Linked DNA regions of Homo sapiens: all the other regions are linked to region 1. Evidence: fine-mapped expression QTL. A gene starts in region 1. Each other region holds a variant in brackets. All regions are shown on one strand. Distances are between the middles of the regions. Region 1 holds the start of GATAD2A (GATA zinc finger domain containing 2A). Region 2 overlaps MAU2 (MAU2 sister chromatid cohesion factor). Region 3 overlaps MAU2 (MAU2 sister chromatid cohesion factor).

The links. PIP is the estimated chance that this variant, and not a neighbour inherited with it, causes the effect.
Region 2: its variant is the best candidate, but not a certain one, in a credible set for the expression of GATAD2A in whole blood (INTERVAL, PIP 0.86).
Region 3: its variant is the best candidate, but not a certain one, in a credible set for the expression of GATAD2A in esophagus mucosa (GTEx, PIP 0.83).

The regions. Positions count from the first base shown.
Region 1 is chr19:19,402,426-19,409,101 of GRCh38, forward strand. It overlaps GATAD2A (GATA zinc finger domain containing 2A), which reads left to right and starts at 3,250. Exons shown (of 12, transcript NM_001384528.1): 1 at 3,250-3,594. RefSeq lists enhancers at 2,406-3,314, 2,752-2,811, 3,315-4,221 and silencers at 2,932-3,481, 4,042-4,121.
Region 2 is chr19:19,330,225-19,336,896 of GRCh38, forward strand. It overlaps MAU2 (MAU2 sister chromatid cohesion factor), which reads left to right. Exons shown (of 19, transcript NM_015329.4): 2 at 5,494-5,511; 3 at 5,898-5,963. Among named protein-coding and RNA genes, the nearest start is that of MAU2, 13 kb to the left of the region's middle. RefSeq lists an enhancer at 5,459-6,658. The variant T/C (reference allele first, on the strand shown) is at 2,953.
Region 3 is chr19:19,354,658-19,360,580 of GRCh38, forward strand. MAU2 (MAU2 sister chromatid cohesion factor) reads left to right here. Exons shown (of 19, transcript NM_015329.4): 18 at 607-734; 19 at 1,051-4,097. The coding sequence ends at 1,125. LOC124904656 (a long non-coding RNA gene) reads right to left here. Exons shown (of 2, transcript XR_007067163.1): 2 at 4,054-4,304. Among named protein-coding and RNA genes, the nearest start is that of MAU2, 37 kb to the left of the region's middle. The variant C/T (reference allele first, on the strand shown) is at 2,079.

The DNA.
Region 1 (6,676 bases):
CGCCTGTAATCCCAGCACTTTGGGAGGCCGAGGCAGGTGGATCATGAGGTCAAGAGATTGAGACCATCCTGGCCAACATGGTGAAACCTTATCTCTACTAAAAATACAAAACAATTAGCTGGGCATGGTGGCGCATGCCTGTAGTCCCAGCTACTCAAGAGGCTGAGACAGGAGAATCTCTTGAGCCTGGGAGGTGGAGGTTGCAGTGATCCGAGATCGCGCCACTACACTCCAGCCTGGTGACAGAGCAAGACTCTGTCTCATTAAAAAAAAAAAGAAAAAAAGAAAGTACAGTATTAATTAACAACGGCTATCACTAAGGGTTTTTTTTTTTTGTTTTTGTTTTTTTGATTTTTTTTTTTTTTTGAGATGGATTCTGGCTCTGTCGGCCAGGCTGTAGCGTAATAGCGCGATCTTGGCTCACTGCAACCTCCGCCTCTTGGGTTCAGCGATTCTCCTGCCTCAGTCTTCTAAGTAGCTGGGATTACAGGCGTGCACCACCATGTCTGGCTAATTTTTGTATTTTTAGTAGAGATGAGGTTTCACTGTGTTGACCACGATGGTCTGGAACTCCTGACCTCAGGTGATCCACATGCCTCGGCCTCCCAAAGTTCTGGGATTACAGACGTGAGCCACTGTGCCCTGCCAGCACTAAGTATTGACTGTCTTTGTTTTCAGATCAGAGAGAAAACTTTTAGAAAACATGGTTCTAGCCCTAGTTGTTTCTTAATTAGAGTTTCTTCAGCTTTAGTATGGCATCTGAAGGTGATTGCATCATATTTCATAATCACCCAGCTGAACTATTTGCTGTTTAGTCCAGCACTGGGCACTGAGGCTAAAAGATCTTTAATCCAAACAGCCTCAGCATTCACCCAACCTGAGCCTATGGGACCCCAAGCAGATCTGGATTCACTGTCACTTACCATCTACCCATCTGACCCTGTCTTCCTATGACAGACAGAAATAAACCCTGTAGCTATTTCACCCCACCTACATACCCTGCACCCCTCCTACTCCCCGTCCGACTTTCCTGGCTGAGAAGTTGGCACTGCCCTCTGGAGCAGGCCCTGTCACCAGTGCACCCCTCACTCCACAGGGGTGTGTCATTAATGTGTTGCAGTTGATGCCTCCCTCTTAAAAAAAAAAAGGGGTGGTTGTCACCCTGGTGACTCACACAGGGCTTGCTGGCTCAAACTCTGGAATCTGTATATCTGTCTCAAGTGTCAGGTCTCCCACCTGACCACACTTTGCTCTGTTTGTAGTTAATTAAATTGACATTAATCAAGACCCAGGTGAGGAGCAGTGAGGTAATAGTTTGCTTGTATTGCTTTAATATACATCATCTGATTAATGATCGTAGCATGAAGCAGTTCTTAAAATATACAGCCACCATGTTAGGGTGAAAAACCTGGATGGTTGCCCTAAACCAACCTTGCGCTTGGGATCAGGGAGCTCTTTGAATTCCTATACCGAGTCACCTGTTTGAGAATAAGACTGTTTTGTTTGTTTGGTTTCTGAATTTGAACATTTGAATTTCTTTGTAGCAAAGCAAAGCAAATTGGTGACATAACTGGGTCAGGGAAAGTGATTGGGAGTCAACAGTTTGTATTTTGTATCATTTTTAGGTTGAATTCTCTTTTGGCCTAGGGGAGGTTGTGCCAGATGTTGCATTAAGTAGTGGGAAGATTTTGGGGGGCAGGGCGGTGTGTTTGGGGAGGTGTGAGGTGGCGGGGTGGAATAAACTACAAAAAGTTGACAATTGTATGTAGAACTCAACACAGAATTAGGAGCTTTTTTGAACTCTGTTTAAGGGGACATACAGCAGAAAAACAATTTTTTTTTTTTTTAGAAAAACAATTTTGTAAAATTTGTTCTACATGAAGTGTTTTTCAGGTTTGCGGTTGAGACCCAATTATTCTTGGGCGTTACATTGATTTTCTTTTCAAATGAAGTAGAATAGAAATAACAGTACAGGCTGGGTGCAGTGGCTTATGCCTGTAATCCCAGCATTTTGGGAGGCCGATGCGAACAGATCACGACATCAGGAGATGGAGACCATCCTGGCCAAGATGGTGAAACCCCGTCTCTACTAAAATACAAAAAAAAAATTGCCGGGTGTGATGGAACGCGCCTGTAATCCCAGCTACTGGGGAGGCTGAGGCAGGGGAATCCGTGAACCTGGGAAGTGGAGGTTGCAGTGAGCCGAGATAGCGCCACTGCACCACTCCAGCCTGGCGACAGAGCAAGACTCTGTCTCCAAAAAAAAGAAAAAAGAAAACAGTACGTTGCATGTGGTAAATTTATGTTTGGTGAAACTTTTGTTTCAGTTGTACATATAGATTTATTAGGGTATGCGATAAAGCATGTCACCACCACTCTTCAGGAGTCTAGGTGTCTCATCAGGAATCGTTTGTTTTAAAACAACATGAAAAGAGGCGGTTTTGGGGATTCCTCAGAACCTGATTTTGGTATTGAGAGCCTTCTTGTGGTAGATTTTCCATGAACTTGATATTTTCCCTATTGAAATTGTATTTCGCTTTATGTAGTTTAACATCTCCAAAGTCCATTCTCTTTCAGGCTTTCATTCTGTCTCCTGTGTTTCCTCCTTGTTACTGGAGAGGGAGGGGTGCAGATTTGCTTTCTTGAGGGGTTTTCACCTTCTCCCTGAGGCACGAGGGCAGATTGGGAGGTAACTGGAGAGGGAGAGCAGTCGTCCCCAAGTGTCTTGAGGTGGGTGGGTCTGGAGCTTTCTTTGTAGAATTCTGTTCACTGCACTGGAGAAGTGATCGTTCAGCCGATCCACACCCCGCCCTCCCCACAGACACCGGGGCCGAAGTTCCCAGAGAAGAGCTTCCGCGTGACGACCCCGCGGGGGTGACATTCTAACCCGCGTTTCAGAGGCAACCCTGAGTTGCTTGAGGTCGCCCAGCTCAGCTGGCGCGAGGTCAGCAGTGAGCGCGTCGTGAGTCAGCCTTGGGTGCGGCCCGCCCGGCTTTGCCGCCGGTGAGTTGGCCACGACCCTTCGGCCTGCGGAGGGCGCTGGGACTCGGCGGGGAGGGAGCCAGCCGGAGCCCGCGTGGGAAACCAGCGCGCCCAACGAGGTGTCGCGTGGGAGCGCGCCGGAGAGGGGCGGTGCTTCCGGGGCGGTACCGTCCGGCCCCGCCCCCTCAACTCAGGGGCCCGCCTTCTACGCCTGGAACCCCGCCCACGAGCTCCTCCCTTCTCGTCAGGCCCCGCCCCTCGGTCGCCACGCCCCGCCCAGCCGGGCGCGGGCGGGCGGCGTCGCCTTTAAGAGCTCCCCGGTGTTTTGGGGGCCGCGGGCCGGGCGCGCTGACCTGGTGCGCATGTCCCGGGCGGTGACGCCGGCGCCGGGCTCCATGTGTGCGGCCGAGGGGCGCATTATCTGGCCGGCGGCGCGGGCGGGCGGGCGGACCGGCGCAGCGAGCGCCGCGGGCCCGGGCGGCCCCACAGGCGGAACGAGCGCGCGCGGCCCGGCGTCCCCGGCCCCTCCGCCGCCCGGCCCCGCGGGCGACCCCGGACCAGCAGCCCCCGTAACCTGCGCGCTGCCCTAGGGCCCGGCCGACCCGCGGCCCGGTAAGTTCTGGACCAAACTTGGCGGGGGGCGGGGGCTGGGGACGCACGGCTGAGACTGGAGCGGCGCGGGCCGCGCAGGGTCGGGGCCTCGGGGGGCTCTGAAGGACCCCTGCATGAGCGTGGAAAAGTGAGAGCGAGCGAGTTCTACTCCTTGTATTCTGGGAGCGTCTTCTTGCGCTGCCCTGGAAAGTTCCTTGCCCCGAGGCGGCCCGGGCACGTGGGGGCCGGGCGGGGGTCCCGGAAAGTCGCGGCGTCGCCCCGCTTCCGTCCTGCGCTTCCTGCGGGGTCGGGGGAAGGGCTGGGCCGCGAGGCGCCTCTTCCGAGTGGTCGGGACGGGTGGAGGCGGCGGGAAGACGGCACGTGGGCGCGCGGGGCGGGGGTCCCGCTCAGGGGCGGGGGTCCGGGGCGGGTTGGGCAGCAACGCTGAACCCCGCGGCGGCGGCGGCGGCGGCGGCGGCGGATCCCGTGTCAGAATAAGAGTCCCCGCGCGCCCACGCCTGGAGGGCCGGCCCTCCCCCAGCTCGCGCCCTTCCTGCCTAACCCCCGGGAGCCGCGGGACCCTTTCCCCTCTCTGATCTCCGGCCTTTCTCAAGGCCCGACACTTTAAATTTGCCTCCCCATCTAGGCGGTGGCTCCATTGATTTCTTTTTTCCCACCTAGAGTGGGTCGGCATCAGTGACTAGACAGCAGCAGCTGGCCTTTTAAAGGGATTATTGCCAAGAATCGGAATTGATCACTTCAACAAGGAAAGGCTTATGGGCAGGGCCCAGGCTGAGAGCCTGACGGACACTTGGATTGTGCGCACACTGGGACCCAGAAATGAATGGTGACCCCTCCCTTAGGAAGTGAATGACAACCCTTAGGTGCGTGTTTCTGCCCTGAGAATTTTGCACAGGGCAAAATTTTGTAGGTCTGACTTAACGTCTTTAGGTGTATAGTTCATCCTTATCTTAAGAGCTGTGGATTCTTTAGATCAAAGTCCGAGTGAGTCACTTGAGCCTTTAATTTTCTTTCTTCCTACCAGTTTACTTCTTTCAGTTTTCTTGGAGTACATAGTGCTGGTTACATCTCTGGTTCTGTGTGCCCATTCACACAGTGACACCTCCTGGCTGTGGCAGCACAGAAACTGAGAGCCCTCTGTGCGGGTGTCTCAGTCTTGGACTGTAGTCCTGTTGACTGACTTAACTCTTCTGGTAGTCGTTACAAGTTTTCTTTTAAACTAGATTACATGAAATAATGTTTGTTGGCACCAGTTTGTTAACATATGCTAAGCAGTAGTTTGTCAGACCTGACCACAAGCTGTGGAGGGCTGATAGCTCATACTAGCCCTCGGGTTTGAGTGCCTACTGTGTGCTAAGCTCCCCTGCACAGACATATTCAGTGCCTATAACAATCCCGTGGGGAGTAGGGAAGTATTATCTGCGCTTTACAGGTCAGGAAATTGGGGCTGCTGGAGGCCAGGCGGCTTGCTCAAGGCCTCTTAGTAGTGAGGCAGAGCCAGGCAGCCCGTACTTGGTGCTCTAGAGCCCACAAATGCTGCAGTTTGCGAACCCTAGTGAGCATTTCCCTGGCGCTTCTAAAATACAAGGCCATTTTCTTGTCCAGGATCCAGGGCACCTCTGTTTGCGGATGTAGGGGATAATCTGGTGACATGGGGACACCATGCTAGCCCTGCTTTGTTCTAGTGGAGCAGCGTTACCAGCTGGATTTTAAGGAACTGAACTACAGAGTTAGTTGCTACTTTGCATTCGCTTCTTCAGCTTTGGACTCAGAAAAGTTGGCCCTTTTCTAGAGGAAACAGTTTATAGGATGTGGGAAATTTGCAAGGGATTTTCTGTATCCTCTGTCTTCACTTATTCCCTCCCCTCCTTCATCTTTCAGTTCTTATTTGTCTCATAAAATTCCGAAGCTGGTTTTTATGAAGATTGCTTCTCATCTTGGAAGGGCTATAGAGAATGGAAAGATTTGGATGCAGTGTGTTTTGTTTGTTTGTTTGTTTTTTTGAGACGGAGTCTCGCTCTGTCATCCAGTCTGGAGTGGCACGATCTTGGTTCACTGCAACTTCCGCCTCTCAGGTTCAAGCAATTCTCCTGCCTCAGCCTCCCGAGTAGTTGGGACTACCATGCCCGGCTAAGTTTTGTATTTTTAGTAGAGACGGGGTTTCACCATGCTGGCCAGGCTGGTCTCGAACTCCTGACCTCGTGATCTGCCCACCTCAGCCTCCCAAAGTGCTGGGATTACAGGCGTGAGCCACCACGCCTGGCGGATGCATTGTTATTTCCACTCAGATGACATCATTTTTTAAAATGTCAAGTCATCTCTATTAATGCAGTATCATTTGGCAAATCCTATAATCTTATATTTTGATAGTGAGGGAAAAATATAATGCTACTTTCGGTAGGAAAAAATCCTGGAAGGATTTGTACCAGAATGTCAATAAAGGTCTCTACATTAGGATTAGCAATAGTTTTTCTTTTTTAGAAAACTTTTTAGTGTCTCTGTATTTTGCGTGTGTGTGTATGTTTTTAATGAGGAAACATGTTTTAAATACTCTAATTTTCAACTCTTCAGTAGCTCCTCTGACTTGTTTTGCATCATTTATTTTCTGAATTTCTGGCATTGCAGGTAGTGATTTCTAGATTGATATATTCAACAAATATCAGAGTGCATACTGTGCCTTCGACACTGCGAGGAATCCCTCCTCAGTAGAGTTTATAGTGAGATTAGTGGGCCAGGAGTCGTAATTAATCTTATAAACATGGGGAAACTTACAGGGATCAAGGAGAGAAGGACACTGTGACCTGGTGAGCCCGAAAGGACCTTTCTCCTACTGGGGTCAGAGAACAAGAAGGGGGACCCTCTTGAAGGGGATTAAGGCAAGGGCTGGTGCAGTGAGGCTCACAGCCGGGACCTCTTTGGGTCTTAGCAGATGACTAAAGGATGCCTCTGAAGAATGTGGCTGGTAAAGTTGTAAAGCCATTCTTGAAATGTTGGCTTTTTTTTTTTTTTTTTTTGGTGTTTGTTCTCTTGGAAGAAAATTAAGAATGACCAGCAGAGTTTTGGATATATGAATTCCCAACAG
Region 2 (6,672 bases), 72 kb before region 1:
CTGTCTTGGCCTCCCAAAGTGCCAGGATTACAGGCGTGAGCCATTGCTCCCAGCCAACCCTGTCTCTTATAAAAACAAAACAACAACAGGCCAGGCATGGTGGCTCACGCCTGTAATCCCGGCACTTTGGGAGGCTGAGGTGGTAGTATCTCCTGAGCCCAGGAGTTTGAGACCAGCCTGGGCAAGATAGCGAGACCCCCATCTCTACAAAAAAGTAAAACAATTAGTTGGGCCTGCCAGGCGCCATGGCTCACGCCTGTAATCCCAGCACTTTGGGAGGCCAAGGCGGGTGCATCACCTGAGGTCAGGAGTTCGAGACCTGCCTGACCAACATAGAGAAACCCCGTCTCTACTGAAAATACAAAATTAGCCAGGCGTGATGGCGCATGCCTGTAATCCCAGCTACTCGGGAGGCTGAGGCAGGAGAATCGCTTGAACCCGGGAGCCGGAGGGTGCCATGAGCCAAGATCACACCATTGCACTCCAGCCTGGGCAGCAAGAGCGAAAATTCATCTCAAAAAACAAAATTAGTAGGACCTGGTGAGATGCACCTGTAGTCCCAGCTACTTGGGAGACCGAGCCAGGAGGATCTCTTGAGCCCAGGAGTTTGAGGTTACAGTGAGGACCACTGCACTCCCCCTGGGTGGCAGAGGGATACCATGTCTAAAAACTACAATCAAAAAAAGCCTTTTTTTTAAAAGTTACTTTGGTTTTAAGGAATAAGAAGCCTTGAAACACTCAGCCCTGGACTGAATCCTCCAGGCACCAGAGCTGTGCTGGTCTGGACCCTTCCACCCCACTTGAAACCTGTTGGCCCTGTTGCAACCCTCTCTTGCTTTCCCTGAGAACCCTAAGGTGACCCCAGGGGCTGCTGATGGAGACAGTCACCTCCTTGCCCTGCTCCCTGCAGCCTCTCACTTTGGCTGCTTTGCTATCATAAGGAAGGAAACATAAAAGCTACTTTTTAGCATTACAAAGTTAAAAAAAAAAAACACCCGGGCACGGTGGCTCACACCTGTAATCCCAGCACTTTGGGAGGCCGAGGCAGGCAGATAACAAGGTCAGGAGACCGAGACCGTCCTGGCTAACATGGTGAAACCCGATTTCTACTGAAAATACAAAGAAAAATTAGCCAGGCGTGGTGGCGGGCGCCTGTAGTCCCAGCTACTCAGGAGGCTGAGGCAGGAGAATGGCGTGAACCTGGGAGGTGGAGCTTGCAGTGAGCTGAGATCGCGCCACTGCACTCCAGCCTGGGCGACAGAGTGCAACTCCGTCTCAAAAAAAAAAAAATCACGTAGATGAGGTAGCAACCTTGGGTAAGGCATTCTACATCCTTTATTTGTGAGATGGATATATTTTTCTGATTTCCAAATATATGCTACAAGTCATACAGAGGGCTGGGTGAGGTGGCTCACAACTGCAATCCCAGTACTTTGGAAGGCTGAAATGGGACGATCACCTGAGCCCAGGAGTTCAAGACCAGCCTGTGCAGCATAGCAAGACCTTCCCTGTCTCTACAAAAAAAAAAGAAAAACAAAACTCTAACAAAGATACAAAAGTGAAGTCATTTAGTAGGTGTCAGATTGATGGCCCTGGGGAATTGACTGGCTCACCCTGACACCAGGCCCATACTGCCCTTCAGGAATGTGTGTCCTCATGCAGAGAGATCCAGGTGTCACTGATGTCCCAGTGAAGAAGCAGTGGCATTTAAAGACAGGGAGAAATCCCATGCCATTTAGGGCTTTGTGTCTGAAAGGCATACGCCTCCGTTCTGTGGCCATTTGCACTTACACAGAAGCCCTCACTTTCCTCTAATGAACTCTACTCATTATCCAAGTGGATAAAGCCATCGTTCGATCAGCAGATGTTTCCCGAGCACCTACTGGATGTCAGCTTGCTGCAGGCATTGCAGCCACAACTTTAAAGTCAAACATCATGGGGCTTTTTTTTGTAAGAGTCAGGGTCTTGCCCTGTTGCCCAGGCTGGAGTGCAACAGCACAATCATAGCTCACTGCAGCCCCAAACTCCTGGGCTCAAGTGATCCTCCCACGTCAGCCTCCCAAGTAACTGGCATTACAGCATGCACCACCATGCCTGGCTGATTTTTTTTTTTTTTTTTTTTTTTTAGAGCGAGAGACAGGGTCTCGCTGTGTTGCCCAGGCCGGTCACAAAAAGAGGGGCTTTATCTAATGTCCTCTGTTTGTATGTATTTGAAGTGGGCGATAAAGCTACATGGGAAACGGATGTTAAAAAGCGCTAGGATGTAATTTCTCCAGTGCCTTAGAGCATCGCTAACTCACAGTGGATCCACACCTTGAACCCAATCCTCTGGCTCCCAGTCAGCGCTCCTGACACCCACTGACGCTAGTGGACGCCTTCCACAAGAGAATGCTTGTATTTGGAGCCTTTGGGCACATTACTTCCCAGCTCACCAGTGCTCACTGAGAGCCTCCCCTTCCTCAGGGGAGATGGGATCCTCTCTGTCTAGCCCACCCGTGGACGGACGGAGCTGGCAGAGAGGCGAGCCCGTTAGCAGCAGGCATATCTGGCTTGTAAAGAAGAGATGTCTTGGCCAGCCGCTGCGGCTCACGCCTGTAATCCCAGCACTTCGGGAGGCTAAGGCGAGCAGATCACCTGAGGTCAGGAGTTTGAGACCAGCCTGACCAACGTAGAGAAACCCCATCTCTACTGAAAATACAAAAATTAGCCAGGCATGGTGGCGCATGCCTGTAATCCCAGCTACTTGGGAGGCTGAGGCAGGAGAATCACTTGAACCTGGGAAGCGGAGGTTGCGGTGAGCTGAGATTATCCCATTGCACTCCAGCCTGGGCAACAAGAGCGAAACTCCATCTCAAAAAAAAAAAAGAAGAGATGTCCATGGGGTCAGGAGAAATGAGGTCCAGTCCAACTGTGTGCTGAATAGATTGATGTTAGCCACATCATGGCCCCAAA[T/C]GGAGAAGGGACACAAAGCTGTTGCTGGCCAAGCACGATGTCCAACGCCTGTAATCCCAGCACCTTTGAAGCCCAAGACAGGAGAATCACTCAAGCCTAGGAACTCGAGACCAGTCTGGGCGGCGTAGCCAGACCCCATCTCTACAAAAAATAAAAAAAATTAGCCAGACGTGGTGGTTCGCACCAGTAGTCCCGGCTACTCAGGAGGCTGAGGTGGGAGGATCACTTCAGCCCAGGAGGTCAAGGCTGCAGTGAGCTCTGATTGTACTGCTGCACTCCAGCCTGGACAACACAGTGAGACTGTGTCTCAAAAAAAAGGAAAAGCTGTTGCTATGAGGAGACATTGTTGGACCCACATGGGCCTGAGCTCGGTGGCATAGGCCAAAGCTTTGTAGAAGGGGGTGTAGTATTCTGAGGCATGAAGTGACTGGACATGTCCTTTTGAAGTCTACCCGCCACAGACATGCACGTGTGGGCTGTCGTCAGCTCTGGGGAGAGCATCCCATGGCCACAGACTGGAAAGGAAAGCTTCTCCGCCCAAAGGGAGGAGGGGGAATTCACGTGTTGACTGGTCGCCTTGCTTACCTCTGCTGGGATGCAGTGACAGAAATGGGGCCAGCTTTGTCACAGGTGCCAGGCTTAGCTGCAGGTGCCAGGTTTGCACCTTGCTCACCCAGGCTGGGGCTGCTGCTTGTGTGTGGCAGTGCTGTCTACCCTGGACTGTGTCTGAAGAGCTCCCCCTTGCCAGCCCCATGGTGCCCAAATCAGAACCACCAAATCTCAGGGTTCAGGGAGACCTCAGCCCAGCTCTAGTACGGCTCCTCTGTCACAGTCCCCTCTCTCCTGTGTGATTGGGCATCCCTTCCAGTTGGTGGCCTTCCAGAGCTTCTTGTGTTAGACCCGGCTTCTCAGTGGGATGCAGCAGCTTCTGTGGAAAAAAGCCCCCAACTTCTGCTCTTCTGTTGCATCACACACGTTGCCACTGTCCCCACACACAGCCTCTAGCTGAGGAGCCTCACCTCTGGGGCCACACTTCTGACGGCAGGTGCTGGCCCCGCCACTCTGAGGACCCCGAGCCCCTCCTGTCCGTGCCACAAGAGGGGACCACAGGAGGCAGACGCTTGGGCTGGCAGAGGGCCTGTGGTCTGGGCTCCTGCGTGTGGGTGCATGTGTGTCAGGGGCTCGGGCTCTCTCCCACAGCTGTCCTCCTGGCCCCCTGTGTCTTGGCAGTAGCTGCTCTCGATGCAGCTCTGTGCTTTCCCAGTGCCTGTGACATTCCCAGCTGCTGCTCACCCTTGCCCTAGAGATCTCCAGCCCCAAGGCTGCCCCCAGCCGTGGATCTCCAGGCCTCACTGGCTCCTCCGCACTCCCTTCGTGAATACTCTCTGCTGCATCCAGGATGGTCTGAAAACTCCCATCTGGGCAGGTGCTTTCATTTTCCACCCCTGACTGAGTCAGCTTCCAGGGGTGACACCAGGGCATTCTGACCCTCAGCTAGGAGTGGCCGCTGTTGCCGCATGAGTGGCAGAGACCATCGGGCTTCAGCCTCACCTCCCTGGCCCTCTGCCTTTTTTATGGGCTTTTCAGTGCCTGGAGCACCTCCTGCTCCCCCTTTTCCTGGAGAACTGGCCCCTCACTTCCCATACTTGCCACACATGCTGCCCTGCCCCATGCAGTCCTCCCACAGAGTGCGATGAGTTAGGGTCTCCTGCTGTGCTCCGGATCCACCTTCCAGCAACCACCGAGGCTCTTGTCAGGTGCAGGTTGCTCTGAATGTGTGTGGCACATGCGAGTCGCTGGGGACAGCGTTAGGCTTGTGTGCTTGGGACCCTGGGTGGTCTGATGGGCTGTGGTCAGTGGCCTGGACTAGCCTGGGAACTGTTGGAACATGGAACTTTAGGGCACAGTGGTCCCTGAGTTGGAGCCTGTTGTCTGAACTGCCTTCCTGGTGTGCATCTTCAGTGCCATCCCGCAGTTCTGCCTGTGTCAGCCCTTCCTGGAGCCCCCTCCCTCCCCTCTGAGAGACTGACTTTGCTTATAGCCAAGCATCTTTCAAATGCCTCTTGCTCAGAAGGACTAACCTTGCCCCCCAAGACCCATTCTCCAGTTGAAACTGATTTCTCGTGTTATGCTTTGCTGAACGTCCTTCCTCTCTGCCTGACCTCTGACTGCCAGCCCTACTTCCGTGTGACACCTGGGGGCCTTGCTGTGGCCAGGTCACCTCTGAGCTCTGTTCCTTTCTGAAGCAGCTCCCACCCATGGGCCTGTGGGGTCTGACTCCAAGTGCGAGCCCCTCCTCTGATGTCAGAAGGGCATGTCCCCTCCTGCCCAGGCACCCACTGGGGCTCTATAGCTTCCATTCCCCTGGCTGGATTGGAGGGGAGTAAGCCTACCCTCTCAGGCCAAGCGGGCCGCCTTCTTGTTACCTGGATACCTGGCAGCCTCTGTTCTCAGGACAACCTGTGGAAGCCCCAGAGCGAGCCAGTAACCAGGTGCCAGGTGTTTGCCTGAGAATTAATCGTTGTTTTCTTTCTTTTTCAGTGGTTGATATCACAGCAAGTATCCTTTCCGTGTTGGTATGGTTCCCTTTAAGGAATTCTCCACTTAAATAAAAAGAATGTATCAAAGCTTGAATCCCACCTCCCGACATGCCCTGTGAGTTGAGGCTCGGCCCACAGAGCACCTGGAGTGTCCCCCACCTGGCCCTCTGCTGCCCTTGGGCGCTGTGCTCCTCTTTGTGCTTCTCTTCGTACCTTGCATCCAGCTCCAAGCCCTGCCCTGCAGCAAGCTCAAGGTTCACTGGGGGAACAGGAAAACTTGGAATTTCAGGGCAGGCAGGGACGTGTGTGCCCTGCAGACCTTGGCAGGGTAGGAGCCCCAAGCTGTGGCCCTTTCAAACCGACCTTTTTCGCAGTGTCTGTACTTCCTTAACTGGACGTCACTAGATCCCGCAGTTCGAAGATGTTAAATTTGAAGCAGCAAGTCTGTTGTCTGAATTGTACTGTCAAGAGGTAAGAACATATTAAGGTTTCTGAAAGCAAAGTGTCTCTCCGTGTCGCTAAGACATGACAGCACATTGGTAAATTGGGGTTCCGGGAGTTGGAATCCCTCCGGCTTTTTTTGTTTTTTTGGTCGGGGTGGGAGGACAGGGTCTCACTCTGTCGCCCAGGCTGGAGTGCATGGCACAATCATGGCTCACCGCAGCCTTAAACTCCTGAGCTCAAGTGATCCTCCCACCTCAGCCTCCCGAGCAGCTGGGACTATAGGCATGCACCACCATGCCTGGCTAATTTTTTTTATTTGTTCTAGAGATGATCTCGCCCAGGCTGGCCTCAAGCAATCCTGCCTCGACTTCCCAAAGTGCCAAAATTATACACAGGAACCACTGTGCCCAGCCCGGTGGCTTTTAACACTCAGATTACTTTCCTGCCTCTTATGCCCCAGCCCCAGGGCTTTGGTGGGTAGCCACCTGCTAAGGAGGGCCAGCAGCTTCCTTTTCTACATAAGACTGTTGGAAAGATCAGCCTGTTCCTCACCTGACAAGTCTGTACAGTTTCTCTTCTTAATCTGGTTCCTAATTTCAATTGTAGCCGAAATCTGCCTTCCTCCCACCTCAGAATGATGACGGGTAAGGTGGCATTGGCAGCAGGGAATGTGTGTGCTTCACACCCTGATGCCTCTCTCTGGTCTGAGAACATAAAAGAAGGGAACTGGCGTCTG
Region 3 (5,923 bases), 48 kb before region 1:
GTCTCTATAGGACACAGAGGCTGCGACTTGGTATCTGGTAGACTTGGGCTGTTAGCCGTGGCGCTCTCAGCCTTGCTTCTTCCCGGAAAGGCAGACAGCAGCCATACCTATTGGGTAGGGCTGGCCAGCTAGCTCTGGGAGCAGGGCGGGCACTCAGCGGGTATCATTGCTGTTACCGCAGCTCCCCCATTTCCAGATTACGAAACTAAGGTCCGGAGACTCGCCTGGGGCCCTGGGGAGGTGACAGGAGACGGGGTGCTCCATGTGCAGTGGGCTGCCTGGGGCTGCTGCCTCAGGATGGGCATTGGGCGTCCTGCCCCAATGAGCGCCTGTTTGCCTGAGGGCTGGCCATGGGCTCCCTGGAGGGCTGGCGAGAAGCCTGGCATTGGGCTTTCACTGCCCAGCCAGCCCTGTTCTGCCCTATGAGGGCGGCTGGCGCATGGGCTTTGTGATCCCAAGACAGGGCTCAGGTCCAGTGACGTGCCAGGCACCCAGAGATCCACCAGTGCAGCTGGGACTTGACCTTAGGGCTCCATCTGCACCGAGTGGGAGGGCCTGGGCAGTGACAGGGCAAGGCGGGCCCCCATGCTCATGTCCCACTCTCAGACCTGAATAAAGCCTGTGGGAACGCCATGGATGCCCATGAAGCCGCCCAGATGCACCAGAACTTCTCGCAGCAGCTGCTCCAGGACCACATTGAGGCCTGCAGCCTCCCCGAACACAACCTCATCACGGTACGGGTGTGGGTGTTAGGGGACGGGATCAGGACTAGCGGGCTCCCCACCTGCAAGAGGAAGGGGCACCTTGGCTGTATTTCTCTTTTGTCCAACAAACCCTAACTCAGCCTCAGGTGATCCCTTGATGGGGGAGATGGCCATGGGCACCCCCACCCAAGCAAGGGACCCAGGTGTCTCCTCGGGGCCCATTGGACTGGGGCATGGAGAACAGAGTCCCGGCTGTGTGAGCAGCCCAAGGAAGGCAGCATTCCAACCTCTTCTTCCCTGGGAACGGTCCACAGTGCCTCACTCGCATGTCCTCTCCTCCCCACAGTGGACAGACGGTCCACCCCCCGTGCAGTTCCAAGCTCAGAATGGACCCAACACCAGCCTGGCCAGCCTCCTGTGAGGCCTTGATGGGGCCATCCAGCTCCGCAGGGCCTGCGCGTCTCCGGCTTCCACCCAGACGGCACTCAAGCCTGCCCCCGAGGCGTGCTTCCTTCCTGATTGTCTCTAGAGCTTCCAAGTCCTGGGAATGTGCGGGGCCAGTCCCTGCCCTCCCAGGAGGGGTGGTAGCCGTTCCCACCTCGCAGCAGGACCCCCAGTGCAGAGGCTCACAGGTGGCACACAGGCGCTGTCTCTCCAGAGCCATCCTTCAGAGTGGACCTCAGTGCCAGTCCTGCCTCAGCATCTGGGTCACGTCGGCCAGGAGTAGGGTGCAGGCCTCCAGCAGGTCCTAATCCTGTGTGCCAGGGCAGGCAGTGCCCCAGGGGCACCACGCCTGACTCTCCATCACCCAGGCCTTGATGCCGAGCGGGAGTAGAGTGTTTCCTCTGCTCAAGGCAATTTCCAGAGCCCGGATGCCAGTTTCTGGCCTGAATTTGGAGGGAAGAAGTAATGGCGCTAGTGTGGGACGAAGCACAGATCCCAGCACTTTTCCCAGCTTTCTCTCCAGCATCAGTCCCTGCAGCAGCTGGGGCCTCTGGTCAGGAACCCTCAGGGACCCAGGAACTCAGCTTCCAAACATCTGCACCTTGACCGGACTCGCCATCCCGCCGTGGGGGTGCAGGTGATTGTAAACACGGGTGTGCATGTGGATGCACACGGGTGTGCGGTGAAGATCTGTGGAGATGGAGCTGGGAGCTGAGGCTCCTGTTGCACCAGCCACCTTCCCCCATCTTGTGGCTGCTGAGGGGCAGGAAGCGGGGGAGTGGGCTCGTCTCCTAAATTTAAGATCACCTCCTCAGCTAGCTTAGAGTGCGTGGCACGGGCCCCCCGCCCCCGAGATCTGGAGCCCAGGGACTTTCTTCCTGGCAGATCTGTGGCCTTCCCTGCTCAGCCTCTTGGTCCCCCCACTCCCTC[C/T]ACCGCCTCACCTTCCCTGCTGGGTCTCTGGGGCACAGTGTGAAACCCGCACCCTAGCCAGGCCCCAGGGAGCCTCCGCTGGGCCCAGACAGCAGCGTTTGGTTTTATCCACTTTTCTTGGATAATCAGGAGGTGCCCCAGTGGTCACAGTGTGGCATTCCGAGTTGGGGCGGGTGGTCGGGTCAAGATAGCAGCAGCAGGTGTCAGGGCTCAAGACACCACCCCCTCCAGCTTCTGGGGCCCAGGAGCCTCTCCCTGCTACAGGGGGTGGGGGTCCTGCTCAGCAGGGTAGGTGGTGGTTTTAGGTCTTGTCACCCTCACTCAGTGGAACTGCCTCTGGGAGCTTTGGCGTCTGTGACTAAAGGGACGCTGGATTGCTCAGGTCAGCTGCTTGGGGCTCCCAGGCTGGGTGTGCCTTAGCCACAGGCAGGGCTGTCAATAACCCCCTTCCTCACTGGCCACCACCTGACATCAGCACCAGTGACAGGCTGGTCAGAGGGCGGGGCTGGTGAGGGTTTGTCCTAAGAGGACCACCGCCATCTCTGGGTCTCCAGGGGGAGAGCCTGGCCCTGTCCTTTGCTACCCAGGGCTGCCCCCAGGCCCATGAAGCCAATAGGAGAGCGTGTGGCACTGGCCCACAAACTGTCCCTGTCCTGTCTTCCTCCCGAGCCATGGCCTCTGCTAGCTCCACCTTGAAGGAGCCCCCCACATCCTCCCCTACATCCCAGAGATGCCACCACTTGTGTCTCCACAATGTGCTCCTGCCCACCCGGGTTCCGCACTGTCCGACCCCTGCACACCACTCATGTCACCACGGCGTGCATCATGTTCATCCCCATCTATTTATTTAAGCCTTTCTTTGCTTGTAGGGCATTTTGTATGTAGAGCAGTTGAAAACAGAACCTCAGAACTTAACATCTGTCCTGATGTTAAAGTGCTTTTCATGACCACCCTGTTATCTATGTATATGTAAAGTTAAGGATGAGATCTTAAGTTTACAATTAAAAACTCAGTACTCAATATTTAATATTCTACTCGAGCTTTATGGAAGCCAAATCATGTGCATGTGTGTGTGTGCGTGTGTGCAAGCTTTGAACCTCCTTCCACAGCCGCATCTTCTCATGACACAAAGCTTTTGATAAGTACTTTCCTGTGGGTCGCTCAGCGCCTCATAGCATCTCATTCAATTGCAAGAATAGAGGCCAGACACGGTGGCGCATGCCTGTAGTCCCAGCTAACTGGGAGGCTGAGGCAGGAGGATCACTTGAGCCCAGGAGATTGAGGCTGCAGTGAGCATGATCGCGACACTGCACTCCAGCCTGGGTGACGGTGAGACTTTGTCTCAAAAAAAAAAAAAAAAACAATGGAAGGCAGACAGCAAGTCCCTGAGGACACATCACACAGTGTCCTGTAGCTAAGTGTCTAGGAAAAAACAAAAACTCCAAACCCTTCAGTGGATGAGGACAAGGTCGCAGAAAGGCATTCTGTTGACAGATGAACAGCCGAAAGCTGGCCAGACCCTCCTGTATGCCTCTGCCCTTGTCCTGTGGGTTGAGGGGGTCTGACCAGGAGGCCACCTACAGCAGGAAGTGAGGCTGCCATGTTTCCTTGAGACACAGCTGCCTCTCCCCAGCTCTGTCCCTGTAGTCACCTGCCGGTGGGCGAGGATCCTCTCCCTGGGATAAGCACTCCCAGCCCCGTTTATCAGAAACACAGGCAAGGAAATTGGAACTGCCACCCAGCCCAGCATGGTGGCTCAATTGGTTGGTTGCGTTGTCAGTTGTCTCTTCGTTTTGTTAAGGTTTTTAATAAGTACGTTTGGCATAATGTCTTTTAATGGGTTTGTAATATTTGTAACGGTTTTAGCAGCCTATAACTTTTCAGCTGGTGCTTTTACTTAGGGAAAAAAACAATTTGTAAATACAGAACATTGTTTAAAAGACATAACCATAGAACATAGCTTCCTGTTTGTGGATTTTGTTTCCTATATATTCAAAGTAAAATGACTTACAGGAGCCACGTGCTGTGTCTTTGTTGTTTCCTCTGTCCGCTTTGTGAGCCATCCCAAAGACGGCTGCCACCCTTGCTGCCATGCCCACAGGGGCCCCCTCTGTGGCGGGGTCTTCAGCATGAGGATGCAGTCCCCAAATCCTGAGCCAGATGACGTGAATGGAAGCCTGAGTCCCCATCTCCTCCACTGATCATTTTCCTCTGGTCTGGCCTCGCCTAGAGAGGAAGGAACCCCATGCTCCATCAGCATATGAGGCCTTCAGCAGCCTGCTCCTGGAATCCTCCCTTCCCAGCCCTCTCAGGGGCAGACTCCCTCATGCACCCAGGTGTCCTGGTCCCTGTGTTTTTTTTTGTTGTTGTTGTTGTTTGAGATGGAGTCTTGCACTGTCGCCCAGGCTGGAGTGCAGAGGCGCGATCTCTGCTCACTGCAACCTCCACCTCCCAGGTTCAAGCGATACTCCTGCCTCAGCCTCCCAAGTAGCTGGGATTACAGGTGCCCGCCACCAAGCCCAGCTAATTTTTTGTATTTTTAGTAGGAACAGCATTTCACTGTGTTGGCCAGGCTGGTCTTGAACTCCTGACCTCGTGATCCACCTGCCTTGGCATCCCAAAGTGCTGGGATTACAGGCCTGAGCCACCGCGCCCAGCCGGTCCCTGCATTCTTAGAGGGGACCAGCCTCCATACACCTGGGAGTGAGGGGAGTTATTTGCCCAGATTTTTTTGTTTGGAGGTGAAATTACCATAACAAATTTAACTTTTTTTGCAGGTTGTGCTGGCTTACGCCTGTAATCCCAGTACTTTGGGAGGCCGAGGCAGGAGGATCCCTTGAGCCCAGGAGTTCAAGAACAGCCTGGGCTACATAGTGAGACCTAGTCTCTACAAAAAATGTATAAAAATTAGCCAGGCAACCAGGTGCCGTGGCTCAAGCCAGTAATCCCAGCACTTTGGGAAGCCGAGGTGGGCGGATCACTTAAGGCCAAGAGTTGAGACCAGCCTGGCCACCATAGTGAAACCCTGTCTCTACTAAAAATACAAAAATTAGCCGGGTGTGGTGGCGTGCACTTGTAGTCCCAGCTACTCAGGAGGCTGAGGCAGGAGATTCACTTGCACCAGGGAGTGGAGGGTTTCAGTGACCCAAGATCCTGATACTGTGCTCCAGCCTGGGTGACAGAGTAAGACTCTCTCTCTCAAAAAATAAATAAATACAAATACAAAATATAAAAATTAGCCGGTATGGTGGCGCACAACTGTAATCCCAGCTACTCGGGAGGCTGAAGCAGGAGAATCGCTTGAACCCGGAGGCAGAGTTTGCAATGAACCAAGATCACACCACTGCCTGGGCGAGAGAGGGAGACTCTACCTCGAAAAAAAAAAATAGCCAGGCATGGTGGTGTGTTCCTGTAGTCCCAGTTACTTAGGAGGCTGAGGCGGGAGGATTACTTGAACCCAGGAGGATATTAGCAGAGACAGAGTCTTGCTCTATTTTATATGTATATAAAATAGTATTATCTGTAAAGTGGACTGCTCAGTGGTATTCAGTACGTTCACAGTGTTGCACAGTTATCATCTCTATCTAGTTCTGGGACATTTTCATTCCCCCAAAAGGAGATTCATTGCCATCAGCAGTCACTCCTCATTCCTCCTCCCTCCCCAAGCCCCTGGCAACTAGTAATCTGCTTCCTGTCTGTGAATTTGCCTGTTCTGGATATTTTATATCAATGGAATCTCATACCCTGTGACCTCTTGTAGCCTGGGATCTCTCAGCACTATGTTTTCAAGGTTCATCTGCACTGTAGCATGGATCATTGCTTTGTTCCTTTTATGAGTGAATAAT